Linked DNA regions of Homo sapiens: region 2 is linked to region 1. The links come from fine-mapping of genetic effects on gene expression. Tissue or cell type: whole blood. Region 1 holds a variant in brackets; the other region holds the start of a gene. All regions are shown on one strand. Distances are between the middles of the regions.

Evidence for each region. PIP is the estimated chance that this variant, and not a neighbour inherited with it, causes the effect.
Region 2: it holds the start of LYAR, and the variant in region 1 is fine-mapped to the expression of LYAR in whole blood (INTERVAL, PIP above 0.99).

Annotation. Positions count from the first base shown.
Region 1 is chr4:4,265,675-4,273,778 of GRCh38, reverse strand. It overlaps LYAR (Ly1 antibody reactive), which reads left to right. Exons shown (of 10, transcript NM_017816.3): 8 at 110-196; 9 at 5,164-5,249; 10 at 5,756-6,078. The coding sequence ends at 5,890. Among named protein-coding and RNA genes, the nearest start is that of LYAR, 20 kb to the left of the region's middle. RefSeq lists a silencer at 4,201-4,378. The variant A/G (reference allele first, on the strand shown) is at 4,087.
Region 2 is chr4:4,286,509-4,294,612 of GRCh38, reverse strand. LYAR (Ly1 antibody reactive) reads left to right here and starts at 4,459. Exons shown (of 10, transcript NM_017816.3): 1 at 4,459-4,577; 2 at 8,041-8,094. It overlaps ZBTB49 (zinc finger and BTB domain containing 49), which reads right to left and starts at 4,362. Exons shown (of 8, transcript NM_145291.4): 1 at 4,261-4,362. RefSeq lists enhancers at 5,434-5,971, 5,972-6,510.

The DNA.
Region 1 (8,104 bases):
AAATGAGATGATACGTGGAGTTTGCCTAGCTCGCATAAGGTCTCATTAAATGGTAGCTGCTAGCGTAAATGCAAAATCTTCTTTAAAAAAAATCTTTCCAAATACTTAGTTGAAACAGATTCTAAGAAGAAAAAGATGAAGCTCCCAGAGCATCCTGAGGGCGGAGAACCAGAAGACGATGAGGCTCCTGCAAAAGGTATATCACTGCTGTCATTTGAGGAGCACGGCTGGGCACAGCGGCTCTCGCTGATAGTCCCAGCTACTTCAGAGGCAGGGGCAGGAGGGTCACTTGAGCTCAGGAGTGTGAGGCTGTAGTGAGCCATGGGCGTACCACTTTCAAAAAGCGAGAGAGAGAGAAAAGAAAAGAGAGAAATACACGGTCCCTTGTAGGTTGGGAGAGGGGCCGAGAGATGCCCCCTTCTGGGGAAGGAAGGTGTAATGTGGGCACTTCTAGTAGGGTCTTACCCTCCAGAGGTATATATAAGAATTTGAAAGTAAAATCAGTTCTCTAGGGTGTGTGAGTCAGTCTTACAGTGCCTCTCACCCACTGTCTTTAAGGAGAAAAGTAAAGCAGTCTGGTTTGGAAATGTATGTTATCTTTGAAATTTAAATAAGCCCAATATAGCTTTCTGAGACCCGGTTCCCTTTCGCTCCTCCCCAACTCTCTTGCCCCTGCCTTTCACTGTTCTCTTAGAAGTCCCCTGAACTGTGCCCCTGCCCATCTCTGGGCCTGTTTCTGGGGTCTCCTTGCTTGTATCCTCAACCTCAGAATCCAGTCCCTGGCCTTCACGGGCCCTCTGAAATGCTGTCTCTTACACAAAGCTTCTCTCCTGCTTCTTCAGGCCTGAAGCACTCATACCTGTCGGGAGGTGGCAAGTCGTCATCTCTCTGCCACCTCCCCCAACCCCCAGGATCCTGCAGTTCAGAACAGGTCCAAAGACTCAAATGGGCCTGCAGCTTTATTAGCAGAGTTCAGTGACTGCCAGCATTGGGTTAGATCTCTAAGCTTAAAACCCCCTTCTCAACTTAGTAAACAGTAGTGTCCCCATATCTGTGGGATGGAAAATTCCAGAAATAAACAATTGATAAGTTTTCCATTGCATGCTGTTCTGAGCAGCATGGCGAGATCTCTTGCTGTCCTGCTGTATGCCTTCTTCACCACAAGAAGGGTGAGGATAGGACAATAAGATATTTAGAGAGACACAGAGAGACCACATTCACATAACTTTTATTATAGTGTATTGTAAAATTGTTCTATTTTATTATTAGTTATTGATAATCTTTTACTGTGCCTCATTTATAAGTGGAGCATTGTCATAGGCATGAATGAATATTTAGGGAAAGACAGTATATATAGGGGTTCAGTACCATTGTGATTTCAGGCATCCACTGGGGGTCTGGGAACTGTCCCCTGCAGATCAAGGGGGACAACTGGAATGGTTATTTTTGTTGTTGTTGTTACATTTTTTGTTTTGAGATCCTTGTAGACTCACATGCAGTTGTAAGAAATAATGGAGACTCAGGCGTCCTTATGTATCCGCGTACCCTTTACCTTGTTGCCACCCAGGATAACACTTTACACAACTGTAGTACAGCATCTCAGCCGGGATGTTGACATGGATACGCTTCCATTTCCATCGCCATTGCGCAAGGCTGCCTCCTGCTGCCCTCTTGTAGCCACAGCCACTTCCCTCTCACCCCCACCCCCTCCTTAGCCTCTGGCAATCACTAATCTGTTCTTCATTTCTGGAATCTCCGAATGTTCTATGAATGGAATCATACAGTATGTAACCTTTTGAGACTGACTCTTCGCTCAGCGTTTTTCTCTGGAGATTCACCCAGGTTGCTGAACTGACCAATATTCATCTTATTGGTGAGGAGTATCCCGTGCTGTGCGTGCATCACAGTCCTTTCATCATTCACCTGTGGAGGGACACCTGGGTGGTTTCTAGTCTCTGGTTATTAATGAATAAAGCTGCAGTAAACATTGATGTGCAGGTTTCTGTGTGAACTAAGTCAGTTTTTCTGAAGCGAATGTTCAATGCTGTGTCATACAGTAGTTGCATATTCTTTCTTTTCTAAGAAACCACCAGCTCAATAACTAATGCTGGCGAGGATGTGGAGAAAAAGGAACGCTGGTGCACTGTTGGTGGGAATGTAAATTAGTACAACCACTATGGAGAACCGCTTGGAGGTTCCTCAGAAACCTAAGAATAGAGCTCCCGTCCAATCCAGCAGCCCCACTGTTTGGGTATATATTCAGAAGAAAGGAAATCCCTGTGTTGAAGAGATACCTGCACTCCCGTGTTTGTTGCAGCACTATTTACAATAACCAAGATTGGAGCAACCTATGTGTCCAGCAGCAGATGAATGGGTAAAGAAAATGTGGTGCATGTACACAGCGGAGTACTATTCAGCCATAAAAAGAATGAGATCCTGTCGTTTGCAGCAACGTGGATGGAACTGGAAGTCATTATGCTAAGTGAAATAAGCCAAGCACAGGAAGACAAGCATAGCATGTTTTCACTTATTTGTGGGATCTAAAAATCAAAACAGTTGCCAACTCATGGAGATAGAGAGTAAAAGGATGGTTACCAGAGACTGGAAAGGGTGGTGGGAGGCTGTGGGAGAGGTGGGGATGGTTAATGGGTATCAAGAAAATAGAATGAATAAGATCTAGTATTTCATAACACAACAGGGTGGCTGTAGTCAATAATAATTTAATTGTACATTTTAAAATAACTAGAGTATAATTGGATTGTTTGTAACACAAAAGGATAAATGCTTGAGGTGATGGATACCCCATTTACTCTGATGTAAGTATCATACATTGCATGTCTGTATCAAAATATCTCACGTGCCCCATATACACCTGCTGTGTACCCACAAAAATTTAAAAAGGAAAAAACTGTCAGCTGTTTCAGGAGTCTCTGTACACATTTTATATTCCCAGTAGCAGTGTGTAAAGGATCTAGTTTCTCCACATCATGGTCAATATTAGGCGTTGCCACTGTGTTGTATTTTCGCCATTCTGATAGATGTGTGGTAACCGCTCATTGTGGTTTGAATTTGTGTGGCCCTAATGACTAATGTTGTTGAGCACCTTCTTCTGTGCATATTTGCTATCTGTATATGTTTTTGTTGAAATGTCTGCTCTCTTTTTTTAAATTTTTTTCCCCTATTTTCTAATTTGAGTTGTTTGGGGTTTTTTTGGTTGTTGTTTTTGTGGGTTTTTTTTTTTTTTAACTGTTGAGATTTTAGTTTTTAAATTTATTCTAAATAGTACTCCTTTGTGGGACATAACAGTTTGTGAATTTTTTTTCAGTCTTTTTGCTTGTTTTTTCATCATAACAGAGTCTTTTTAGGGCAAATGGTTTTTATTTTGATAAAGTTCAATTTATCAATTTATCTTATGGATTGTGCTAACAACTCTTTACCTAGCCCTAGAGCCTAAAGATTTTTTTGTTTTCTAAATTATCTTAATGGATAACTTTTTTTTTTTTTTTTTTTACAAATCAACATTTTATGTAGTTCAGGTGTACAATTTAATGTGTTACTGTATTTTATTTTTATTTTTCGAGACAGGGTCTCACTGTTGCCCAGGGTGGAGTGCATTGGTGTGATCATGACTCACTGCAGCCTCAACTTCCTGAGCTCAAGCAATCTTCCTGGGTAGTTAGGACTACGAGTACACACCACCACACCCAGCGAAGTTTTAAAATTTTGTGACGGAGGTCTTGCAGTGTTGCCCAGGCCTGTCTTGAACTCCTGGGCTCAAGCAATCCTTCTGCCTCAGCCTCCCAAAGTGCCTGGATTACAAGCATGAGCCACCATGCCCAGCTCAACTTAATGTTTTATTATACATGTACATTGTGAAATAGTGACTACAATCAAGCTGATTAACACATTTATCACCTCACATAGTTTACGTGTGTGTGTGTTGAGAACACTTAAGATATATCCTCACAGCAAATTTCAGGTCTATGTTAAATGCCTCCTAGTCTTACATTTTTTATTGAAGTCCATGATCCATTTTGAGTTAGTTGTTTTTGTAAGGTGTGAGATCCTGTTTACGCTTTCTGTTTT[A/G]ACTGGCTTTCTCTCACATGACTTTGGTGGTTGTGGAGGGGCACGGCCTTGTTGCTGTCAGGTGGGGGCGGAAGTCCAGGCTCTCTACTCAGCCTCCATCCACACCTGAGGATGGCCACTTCTTGCTCCTGCCGGGCAGGGCTCCTGGTGCAGGTTCCACTGACATCACAGCAGGGGCAGCCTCATGACCGGCCTGTGTGGATGAGACCCCTGAATTCCTGCTTGGCCTTCTGTGACACCGTCCCTCATTACAGCCTTGCGAGGGTAGAGAACTCAGGCTCGCCACTCGGCTTTTGCTGGTGCGGGTGGGGGTGGAGCCACCGTTTTTTCTGTGATGTGTGGCTGCAGTAGGGTTGTTATTATACAAAAGTTTTCTGTCTTGCTAGGCTGCCGTTTCCCGGTCCTTTGCCAAGAGAGCAGGCTTCTGTTGGGACTGTTTTGTCTGTGCTGTTGGTGTTCAGGTTGCTGGGTTCTTCAACTCCAGATCTGGGGTACAGGCAGCAAGAAGCTCACCCCGTGTTGCTCTGCAGGCCCCGAGGTCCCAGCTGGTCTCTACCTTTCAGAGTCTTCTTACATTTCTTGCCTATATAGTTTCAGGGTTCTCAGTTGTAGTGGGCAGGAGGAAGGGGAAAGTGTGTCCACTCCATCTTCCCAGAAGCAGAAGTTCCCTAGATGAGTATTTTTAGTTCCTCTATAATAGTTTGTGGTTGTCCTCTCTCTCATTTCAGGTCAAGCTGTTTTGCTCATCTTTGTCCTCCCTACTGTGCATGGACAGCCCCATGATCTTAGTGGATGCTTAGGAAATCTGTGTTGAGTTCATTACATACAACTCTATCTAGGAGTTTGTCATGCCAATAGCACATGGGCACCTGCTCACTCTTAAGAGCCAGTCCTTTGAAGGGTAGTGAGTGCTTCTAGGACATTGGAATTGAACAGATGCTTGGTGCTATGGAGTCTGGTTCATTAGAGGGTTAGCTCATTTCCTGGGAAGCAAATAGGTGTTGCAGAAGTTGTTTCTTTACCCTTCTCGTAGTACAACAAAACGAAATGTCTTAAATATTATTATTTATATTGTAGGTAAATTCAACTGGAAGGGAACTATTAAAGCAATTCTGAAACAGGCCCCAGACAATGAAATAACCATCAAAAAGCTAAGGAAAAAGGTATGGCATATGAACAAACCCACGTGTCTAACAGCTGGGGAGAACTTATTTCTAAATGTACAATTGTTTGTTTTTTTCTTTTTTCACCTAAAACACTGAAAATCTGTGTGTGTGTCTCAGTGATTTTCAAGCTGCTCCAAAGCCCCACACAGCCTCAGCCAGGGTGGTGCCTAGATTTTGGGCTTGTTTATAAGACTTTGAAGAGAGGCTCCATTTATTTAATTTTTATTGTTTGGAAATTATTTTCTAGATATTTGCTCTCTTTTGCCTATCCCAGAGCAGTGGTTTCTTCTCCTTTATTTCACTTTGTTTCTCAGGATGACTCACACATGGCCAAACCCCTGCACGTGGCTGCCGCCTGGGTTTTCCAAGGAGAGCACGCCGGTGTCGCTTGCTCCTGGGTTTCTTTTATTTTTTCCTGTTGTTCTATTTCTGGGTTAAAGACAGAACATTTTAAGATAATTTTCCAGGTCAAATACACTCATTTGATGTTTTTCTTTGTGAAGGTTTTAGCTCAGTACTACACAGTGACAGATGAGCATCACAGATCCGAAGAGGAACTCCTGGTCATCTTTAACAAGAAAATCAGCAAGAACCCTACCTTTAAGTTATTAAAGGACAAAGTCAAGCTTGTGAAATGAACATTTGTGTATTTAAAAATTGAATCCATTCTGCTGACTTCTTCCTTTCACTGCTGTTTATAAAATGTGTAATGAATTCTAACAACTCAAATTTTGCTTTTTGAAGCTGTATTTTTAAGTTAAGAAAATATATTTTTGGTATAACTTTTATGAGAAAAATAAAATATATTCTGGTCCAAACTTCTAAATTTGTTGTGGCAAAAATTACTGAACTTTACAAAATAGTTTTGTGTGAAAAAATTTTTTTCAATGTAGTGCAGCAACAAGTAAAAAAGTAATTCCTCTTTTGATCAGACTAAAAAGTATTCATTTTAACCACATCATTTCTACACTTTGTTGTTATTGTTGTTTGAGAAAGGGTCTCTGTCGCCCAGCCTGGAGTGCAGTGGCACAATCTCAGCTCACTGCAACCTCCATCTCCCAGGTTCAAGCAATTCTGCCTCAGCCTCCTGAGTAGCTGGGATTACAGGCATCCGCCACCACACCTGGCTAATTTTTATATTTTTAGTAGAGCCAGGGTTTCACCATGTTGGCCAGGCTAGTCCCAAACTGACCTCAAGTGATCCGCCTGCCTCGGCCACCCAAAGTTCTGGGATTACAGGCATGAGCCACTGTGCCCAGCTATTTCTACACATTTTTGATTAGAGATGTTTTGTGCGTTTGTTTTTTGTGTTGTTGGAATGTGTATGTGAACTGCGGGAATGGTCATGACAAGAGTCTTGTATGTGTTAATCCTTCTGTAGCCAGAAGTATGGTGCTATAGAGGAGGCTTCTCTGTAACAGGTTCACCCATCCACACTGGCCCCATCTACCTTCAGCCAAAGAGACGAGTTTGTCAGTGGCTGGATTCAGGAGCATGGCCTGTGACTGGAAGCGAGAGGCACAGGGAAATAGCTCATTGGAGACTGAATCTCTTGTGCAGCTGTGTGGCTGCTCCAGTGCTCTGATTGGACTGAATGCTTTCAGAAACAGTGTTTGAAGTCCTGGTTGATTGTGCTGTAGGACAGCCTTTTTGCCACCTCTTGGATGGTTCAGTAGGTTTTGCCCACAAGACCCTTAAAAGCTGGTCCTCTGGTACAGATCACCCCTTAGCCAGTTTCATTAATATCTCATCAATTCCCCACAAAAGCAAGTCTGGGACATGGAACAAGTAGTTTAAAGGGTTAGGACGGAGAGGAGGGATGAGAGGGAGGACAGAGGCCCTGTCTGAGCCTCTGAGTGCCCAGAAGCCCACGGAGCAGCTTCACTCTGGGACTTGCCAGCCAAGCCAAGCAGCATCTTGAGTTCAGTGCTTATTAGGCGATGTGCCACATATAAGTGTAGTGACGGCATTGAGTGGCACTGTCAGAATGAGTAGGACTCAGGCTTCAGAATCAGGCCCAGAGTCAGGTCCTGACTCTGTCCCTTATTGGCTAACCTCTGAACCTCACTTTTCTCAGCTGGACAATGGGGATAGTAAAGGTTGTGAGTGAATGAACTAATTCACGTAAAGGACACAGCATGTTCCCTTATTAGACACAATAGATCCCCTCAGTGGGTGCTGTCACTACTCTTACCGTTACCAGTAACAATTTTTGGGCCATGAGAAGCTTTAGACATTCTGGAAAGCAAAAGAAAACTGAGAAAGTGAAACAACCCAGACCACATACCTAATTAGGGACAAAAGCAGAACAGAGCTGTGACTCCGCAGTCCAGTCCCGAAGTCTTCCTATGCCAGCACTCCAGGGAGCAGAGGGAGGTGTGCTCTGCAGTTATCACCCGGGCACAGGGGAGATGCAGGGCCACCCCGTGAGAGTCACATGATGTTCTACAAGCGCCATGGAATTTCAGTTTGTGATTGTATTAGTTTGTTTTCACTCTGCTGATAAAGATATACCTGAGATGGGGTAATTTATAAAGAAGAAGAAGTTTAATGGACTCACAGTTCCACGTGGCTGGGGAGGCCTCACAATCATGGCGGAAGGCAAAAGGCATGTCTTCCATGGCGGCAGACGAGAGACGAGAGAGAATTTGTGCAGGAAAACTCTTTATGAAACCATCAGGTCTCGTGAGACCTATTCACTATTACAAGAACAGCACAGGAAAGACCCGTACCCATGATTCAATTACCTCCCACCGGGTACCTCCCACAACACATGGGAATTGTGGGAGCTACAATTTAAGATGAGATTTGGGTGGGGACACAGCCAAGCCATATCAGGGATCTTTATTTTT
Region 2 (8,104 bases), 21 kb before region 1:
GAGGCCGAGGCAGGCGGATCACCTAAGGCTACGAGTTCGAGACCAGTCTAGCCAACACGAAGAAACCATCTCCACTAAAAATACAAAAATTAGCCAGGCGTGGTGACGCATGCCTATAATACCAGCTACTCTGGAGGCTGAGGCAGGAGAATCGCTTGAACCCAGAAGGCCGAGGTTCCAGTGAGCCGAGATTGCACCACTGCACTCCAGCCTGGGCAACAGAACGAGACTCCATCTCAAAATAATAATTATTATTATTCCATATCATTTTGTATAGTTCTCTAAATTACTTCATGATGTCAATCCTGTACCTCCCCAGTAAGGTTATAAAAAGGTCTGGAAACCCCAATAAGGTTATTAAAAGGTCTGGAAACCCCAATGAGGTTATAAAAAGGTCTGGAAAAAAAATTGTATCTTACATTTCTTATGTGTTCTGTCAATTATAAACAAAAATGTATCTTATACCTAATAATAGTAATGATTATGACAAATACTTATGTTTCCTAGATGCCAGGCACTATTCTAAGCCCTTTACACTTATTAACTCATTTACCATAAGATAGGTGCTACTATTATCCACATTTTACAGGTGAGGACAATGAGGAATTTGTCAGATTTAAGATGGCCACAAATTCTCCGATGATTCTCCCATGGGGTAGTGGAGTCTAGGTCTCCTTCCCTCCTGCACAGGCTCTGCCTTAATCAGATTCTGTGCTACAAAGCTGTGCTCATTTCCCAGGCCCAGGCCTTTAAAGAGCTAACAGCTTCCACTTCCCATCTTTCAGAACAGTGGCTATGGAAGGCCTGAGCCACCTGTAAGATGCCCAGCTAGAGAGAACACATGGAGACAGAGAAGGGTTCAGCTGGCTCCCAGGAAAGCCATCCTGACCTCTCCAGGCTGGCCCCTCCTCCAACTGAATGCCACTGAGTGATCCCAGTTGACACCACATAGAATTGAAGAATTTCTCAGCTGACACCTGCCTGAATACCTAACCTGCAGAATTATGAGATAAAATAGTTTTTGAGTCACTAAATTTGGGGGTAGAGTGTTACACAGCAACAGAAAACCTGACCATATACAGAGAAGATGGTCACACAGCTAAAAATAGGTAAGTAATAAGGGACAGAGGTGGGATTCAGAGCCAGGGAATCTGACACCAAAGCCGCATTCATAACCACTGTTTCCTTTGATCGGAATCAGCTGCCTCTTCAGTCTACTGCCTATGCCTGATTGTCCAGGTAATCCCACAGACAAGCTTTGCATTAAGGAACTGCACAATTCAGGACTAAGATGTGCTACACAAGGTGTTATAGCGTGAGAGAAGGAGCAGAAGGTTCTCTTCCATCTTTGCGACTAACTCACCTAGTGACAAGCAGTAAAAATTTTCTGTGGTGAAGACATGGACTCCATCTGTCTTATTGAACAATGTATCTCTGGTGCCTAGCAGAGTGTCTTTGACATAATAGGCACTCAATACATATTTCTGGATGGATGAGACTCTGGGCCTCAGTTTTTCATCTATAAAAATGGAGAGGTCCCCTATTGGACTAGATGATCTCTTTTAGAGGTTTTTTCCTAGTTCTAAAAGCTACAAATCTATACAAGGAATGTGATGGTGGAAAGATGGTATGAATGGCGTCAAAAAATGAAAATATGGGGGGAAAAGAAACAAGAAAAAGTTTAGATCAATGTGAATGAAGAAATGCTTCTAAAGAAAACAACAGCCAGAATGGAATTTCAACCTGCAGAGAGGACTCCTAGAGCAAAGGCCCCTCAATTCTACCAACAGGTCAAATACTACTGGATAGAATTTGTGGATGTTTTTTCAGCAGTGCCATTAATAGATTACTTCTCCAAGGGCCCACAGTTCACGCACCTTAAAGTCAAGCTTACCTCAGAGGGCTCCTAAGGAGTCTGCCCATCATCATACTTTCCAAATGGCTTACTTGTAGCTCCTCACCTCCACCCTACTCATAAAAGCACTGGCTTGAAGCAACAAACCTGGAATCTTGTCTTAGCTTTATGCTGACTCTTATCATACTGGGAAGGCCAATTGGGTTAAACAGATACTGTGTGCCTAACATGTGCAACAGATTGTCGCGAGGATGGAATGCTGACAAACGGAACAGATGTGTTCCCTACTCTTCACAGGCTCTGTGTCTCAGTTTTCCATCATTCACTTAACTTTACACAATGCCCATTATGCGCTAGGCACTGAAGGTACGATGGCAAACACATCAGATACGGTCATCCATGTCTTCATGAAGCATCAGTCTAGTGGGAAAAACAAGTATCGTTGCACTGTACCAGAGTTATTTTTTATTTTTTTCCGAGACGCAGTCTTGCTCAGTTGACCAGGCTGGAGTGGAGTGGTGTGCTTTCGGCTCAGTGCAACCTCCACCTCCTGGGTTCAAGCGATTCTTCTGCCTCAGCCTCCCGAGTAGCTGGGATTACAGGCATGCACCACCACACCCAGCTAATTTTTGTATTTTTAGTAAGGACGAGGGGTGGGGGTCTCACCATGTTGGCCAGGCTGGTGTCAAACTCCTGACCTCAAATGATCCACTCGCCTCAGCCTCCCAAAGTGCTGGGATTACAGGCATGCGCCACCACACCCGCCTAATTTTGGTACTCTTAGTAGAGATGGGGTTTACAGGGTTTCACCATGTTGGCCAGGCTGGTCTCTATCTCTTGACCTCAGGAGCTGCCTGCCTCGGCCTCCCAAAGCGCTGGGATTACAGGCGTGAGCCACCGCACCCAGCCCTGTACCAAAGTTATTAAATGGAGGAAGCAGAAATTAATTTGGGAGGGAGGGTCAGGGAAAACTTCCTGGAAGACACATCTATGCTGAAATGTGAGTTAAGTTTGCCAGACTAAAAAAATGAGAGGGCTCACTTTCTTTGAGTATTCAGGAGGACAAACAAACAAACAACAACAACCAAACCCAAAAACAGTACGAGAGCACAAACAAGACTGAAGTACACATATGTGCCCTGAACACAAAAAACATCTTGAGCACCCTGCTTTTAAGCCTCCTGGCCATTCTGTCACTTCTGTTGGAAAGTATTTCCCTCCTTGTCCATTTCTGTGAATTCCTTCTGTTATGGTTAAACTGTTCCCCCAGCACTCCAGAATGTGATTGTATTTGGAGATCAGGCTTGTAAGAAGGTAATTAAGTTAAAATGAGGCCATTAAGGTGGGCCCTAATACAACCTGACTGACGTTCTCATAAAGAGGAAATCTGGATGCAAAGAGAGACGCCAGAGATGTGAAAACACAGAGGAAAGACCATGCGAGGACACAGCAAGAAAGCAGCCACGTGCAAGCCAAGGAGAAATGTCTCAGAAGAAACCAAACCTGAAGACACCTTGATCTTGGACTTCTAACCTCCAGAACTGTGAGAAAATAATAAATTTCTGTTGTTTAAGCCACCCAGTATTTTGTTTGCAGTCCTAGCAAACTAATACACCTTCTATTCCAGGCCCAACACTGCTCACTTTCAGAGTGAAACCTTATCACCCATATACACACACCTTGGGAGTGAAGGTTTCTCACAATACTCTGTGCATCCTCCACTCAACTTTCATTCATTCATTTAAGCAACAAACACCTAGTGACCACCACTGTGTGCCAGACCCTGTTTTAAGGGCTGAGAAGAGCTAACGTTTATTGAGTACTTACTAAGTGGCAGCCACTAGTCTAAGCGATTTACATGCACCAACTCATGAAATACGACAAGGTTCCAGGGACGCAGGTGCCGCTATGACATTCGCTTTACAGATGCGGGGCTGAGGCACAAAGAGGCCACACCGTAATGAAACTGAGCTAGGCTGTGGGCTCTGTCGTCTTAAGCGCTACTCTCAACTACAGCGTGGAAGGAAACAGAAGCCGAGAGATGGGCAGCGCGTAGCGGAGGCGGGCCGGGCTGGCTTCCAGCGGGCAAAGCCTGGAGATGAGAGGGCGCGGGTGGGGTTTCCAGGCCGAGGAAGCTGCACCAGGGAGAAGGCCCGGCTCCCAGGCCCGGAACCTGGCCGTCTGGGTCTCAGTCCGCGTCCCCTGTGATGCCCGGCACAGAGCAAATGCTCGCTGACTCTCGCAGGAGCCGCCAACCCCCCGGGTATCCTCGAGTGCCCAGAGACGGGAAGGAGCGGTGGGTCCATGCCCTTCTGGGCCACCTTCGGGCGCCCGGCCTCCCTTCCCTTCCGGGCCATTCCCACCAGCGCCAGCCCCGCACGCCTTCGCAAGGCCGGCCACCTTACCCTCGGAGGCCGCTCTCTGCCCCGCCGCCTACTCTTCACCTGCAGCAGCTGCCTTCAAGGCCACTCGCAGCGATCCGCTGGCCGCGGAATCATCACGACAACGCCCCCTTGGCTTGCCGGAACCGCCTTCCTGCTTCCGTTGGCGTCACTTCCACTGGGGGGGGCGTGGCCGCGGTGCGCAGGCGCGCTGGGTGGTTCAGAAGCGAATTCTGCACCGCGAAGCCTGAGAGGCAGGTAGCTGCGGCGCTGGGCTGGCGGCGGCGAGTCCACGTGCTCCCCGCGGCCGGTTGAAACCGTTGGCGGGCGCTGGCTGAGAGGTGAGGGGTGGTGGCCCAGAGGTCCGACCTGGGAGGCTGGGGCTCAGAGAGTGAGTAGGGGAGGGACGGGATTTCCACCGTCAGCCCCTCTGGGTTACGCATGGAGGAAGGAGTTCCATTCAGATCTCACTCCTGCTCTGGGGAAGTGGCAGGAGTCCTGGACTTAGGGTGACCAACTCGTTTTAGTTTTAAAACTTAAGGTCCGGCGTCCTGGGAACTCCCTCGGGCCTGGCCAAACCAGGACGATTGGTCACCGCCCGACTGGGCTTCAGGCTTGCTGCATGTTGGAGACAGGGCTCTTCTCTGAGCCTTGGGAGATCAGTCCCTAAAGAGGAGGCCTTAGGATGTAGCGGTCCAGAGCACATACTTAGGATCAGAATAACTACTGCGTGTGAATCTGGGTTGCCACTACCTGGATGTGGGATGACCTGGTGTAAGTTTTTTAACCTCTTTGCGCCTCACTTTCCTCATCTGTCATAACATATAGAATCTAACTCGGAGAACTGTGATGAGGATTACATGAGTAGAAATGTGTTAACCTCCTATGAGAGGGCTTGGGTGCTCCATGAATGTTAGGATTCTCTGAAGCACCTACCTCTGAGGAGAGAGGGAGGAGGATGAGGTGGGGTCTGTATTTGCAACCCTGATTTCTAGCAGAGAGGGCCCACTTGGGACTTACTCACACTGTGCCCGAGGCTCCCAGGGTCTAGCATAGTGCCTGACACATGGTAGTTACTCGAGTGAAGGGATGGTGTTTAAAACAGTGCTGGTGATGCCGTGGGTGGGGTAGGAGGCAGAGAGAAATGGCTTCTGTGCCTCAGTTTGCTCATCTGTTTAGTGGAGATAGGTGCACCTACTTCCCAGGGCTTTTGCAAGGAACAAGGGAGAGATTCTCTCCTTGTGAATGTCACCCATTGTAACCCTTGTCAGCCTCATACACAAAGGTTTAGGCAGGATGGTGGACAGAGTATGTTTGTCTGTCCTTCTCTTGCACCATACCCATGGTTTCTCAGAATGCTACCCGTGGAAGGGGCTTGAGTCTTGTCAAGTTGGCCTGACTTCTTGTTTCACAGATGAGATAACTTGAAGTTTATAGAGGCAGTGGCATGCTCAGGGTCACAGTGTTCAGTGGGGGATATCCTGGGGTTGCCAGCTAGGCCCCTCAGGTGGGCTGTTTGAGTGGTAGTGGTGGTAATGATGTGTAGGTCAGTGTCTGCATGTGCATGCAAGAATATTTTAAGAATAGTCAAGGCCAAGCGCAGTGGCCCGTGCCTGTCATCCGAGCACTTTGGGAGGCCGAGGAGGGTGGATCACCTGAGGTCAAGAGTTCACAACCAGCCTGGCCAACATGGTGAAACTCCGTCTCTACTAAAAATACAAAAATTAGCCGGGCATGGTGGCATGTGCCTGTAATCCCAGCTACTGGGGAGGCTGAGGCCGGAGAATCACTTGAACCTGGGAGGCAAAGGCTGCAGTGAGCCGAGATTGCGCCATTGTACTCCAGCCTGGGCAACAGAATGAGACTCCGTCTCAAAAAAAAAAAAAAAAAGAAAAAAAATTGAATAAGTAATACAAAAATATAGAGGGAAGAAGATTTAAAAAAAATCATTCCAATCTCAGAACCAAACCTAAGGGCATGTTATCAGGGAACTTGGTAAAGTAGGCAGCCATGGGGTGAGGAGCCAGAGAAGGTTGGAGTGAATTTATGAACATAAATGGGTGGGTTGATGGTCATATTTAAAGGAGCATGGGTTTAGGAGGGGGCTGGGTATAATAGCATTGATGTGCAAATTAGTAGGTCACAGAGAAACCTTTCTACAATTGGGCAGGGATGAAGCTTTCATATCTGGTGTCTTATTTAACTTTCCACCCAATGCTTTGAGTTAGGTATTAGATCCATTTTACAGATAAACAGATTCTGGGAAGTTAAGGTGCTTTGAGGTCATTTAGTTTTTAATGACTTTTTTGACATTAGCAGATGTAGGCTCCAGCTCAGATCCTCTACACCTGAGTCAGGGCCCTGTCCAACAAAAGCTGGCAACCATCTTGTTAAGAGAAGACTAACAAGTTCCCAGCCCCTTAGTGACCACTGGCTGCTGCCCCTCAGCTAGCTTTGCTGTCCAGACCCTGACAGCCTCTCCTGTGACATGGGTGGTCTCCTTGCCCACTGCACAGAGGTTTTATAATTAAGACTTAGGGTTCTAATATTTATACATGGAAAGTCATCTTATAGAGACCTTAATTTTTTTTCTCTTTGGATGAGGACCTCAAGGTCCCAGGTGCTGAGTAACCACCAAGCAAACGGCTAGGACATGGCAGGTCAAGATGGAGGCAGGGTGGGAGCCTGGGCTTGCTGCCTGGTCTTTCAGGCCACCTCTGCCACTTACTGTGACTTCGGGCAGTTCACTTACCCTCCTGAGCCTTAGGTTTTCTCTCCAGATGGAGGTAGTATGATCATAGCAGTCTTAGTGGTATTGGGGGCAGTTGTGTTCATAAATGGGACACGGCTTTGTAGAGAGCTAATGATCATGTGTTCTATGGTGCAGACCCCGTCATCTTTTTCATGGGTATGGCATGTGATGAGAGCTCAGTAAACTGACCATACAGACAGACGAAGACGCAGCCAGGAGCACACGCAGAGGACCTGCGTGAGGGCCCCAGGTGTATCTGGGTGGATAGGATAGTGTCAGCATTCAGGAAATGTCTGCCGAATTGAGTTAAAGTGACTGAGCAAGAACCGAAGTATGCTCTCAACCAGTCCAAGAACACTGCCTTCTGCCTGCCTTTCTCTTTTAACATGCGCATGTGGCCAGAAGGAAAGCATGTAGAATCTCTCTGGCTGCGCTGGGACTGGACATTGGGCAGAGGGAGTTGGGGAGCCAGGGAAGGAAAAGAGGACTCTATTTAGATCCAGCCCCATGAAAAAACTGCTGTCTTTTTACACTTAGGGCTAGATGTTGAAATCTGTCACATCTGAGCCCGGCAGACTGGGTGTCCTCAAAATCTTAATGCAGTTTTAAGCTTTCATAATTTCAGAAGCATAAATGATCCAAACTTGCCAAAACATCATTTAAAATTTAATTAAGGCCGGGCGCGGTGGCTCACGCCTGTAATCCCAGCACTTTGGGAGGCCGAGGCAGGCGGATCACGAGGTCAGGAGATTGAGACCATCCTGGCTAACACGGTGAAACCCCATCTATCTCTACTAAAAAATACAAAAAATAAGCTGGGCGTGGTGGCGGATGCCTGTAATCCCAGCTACTCGGGAGGCTGAGGCAAGAGAATGGCATGAACCCGGGAGGCGGAGCTTGCAGTGAGCCAAGAATGCACCACTGCACTCCAGCCTGGGCGACAAAGCGAGACTCCTTTCTCAAAAAAAAAAAAAAAAAGTTTAATTAAATTTCCTTCATGCTTATCTAGTCTTGTGGAATTTGAACAATACCGTTTTACTTTTTTGTTTTAGGCAATGTTTGCTGTCTTCCATTGGAGTGACTGAATTTCTACATGACGGCTTTTTGTAAGTTTGT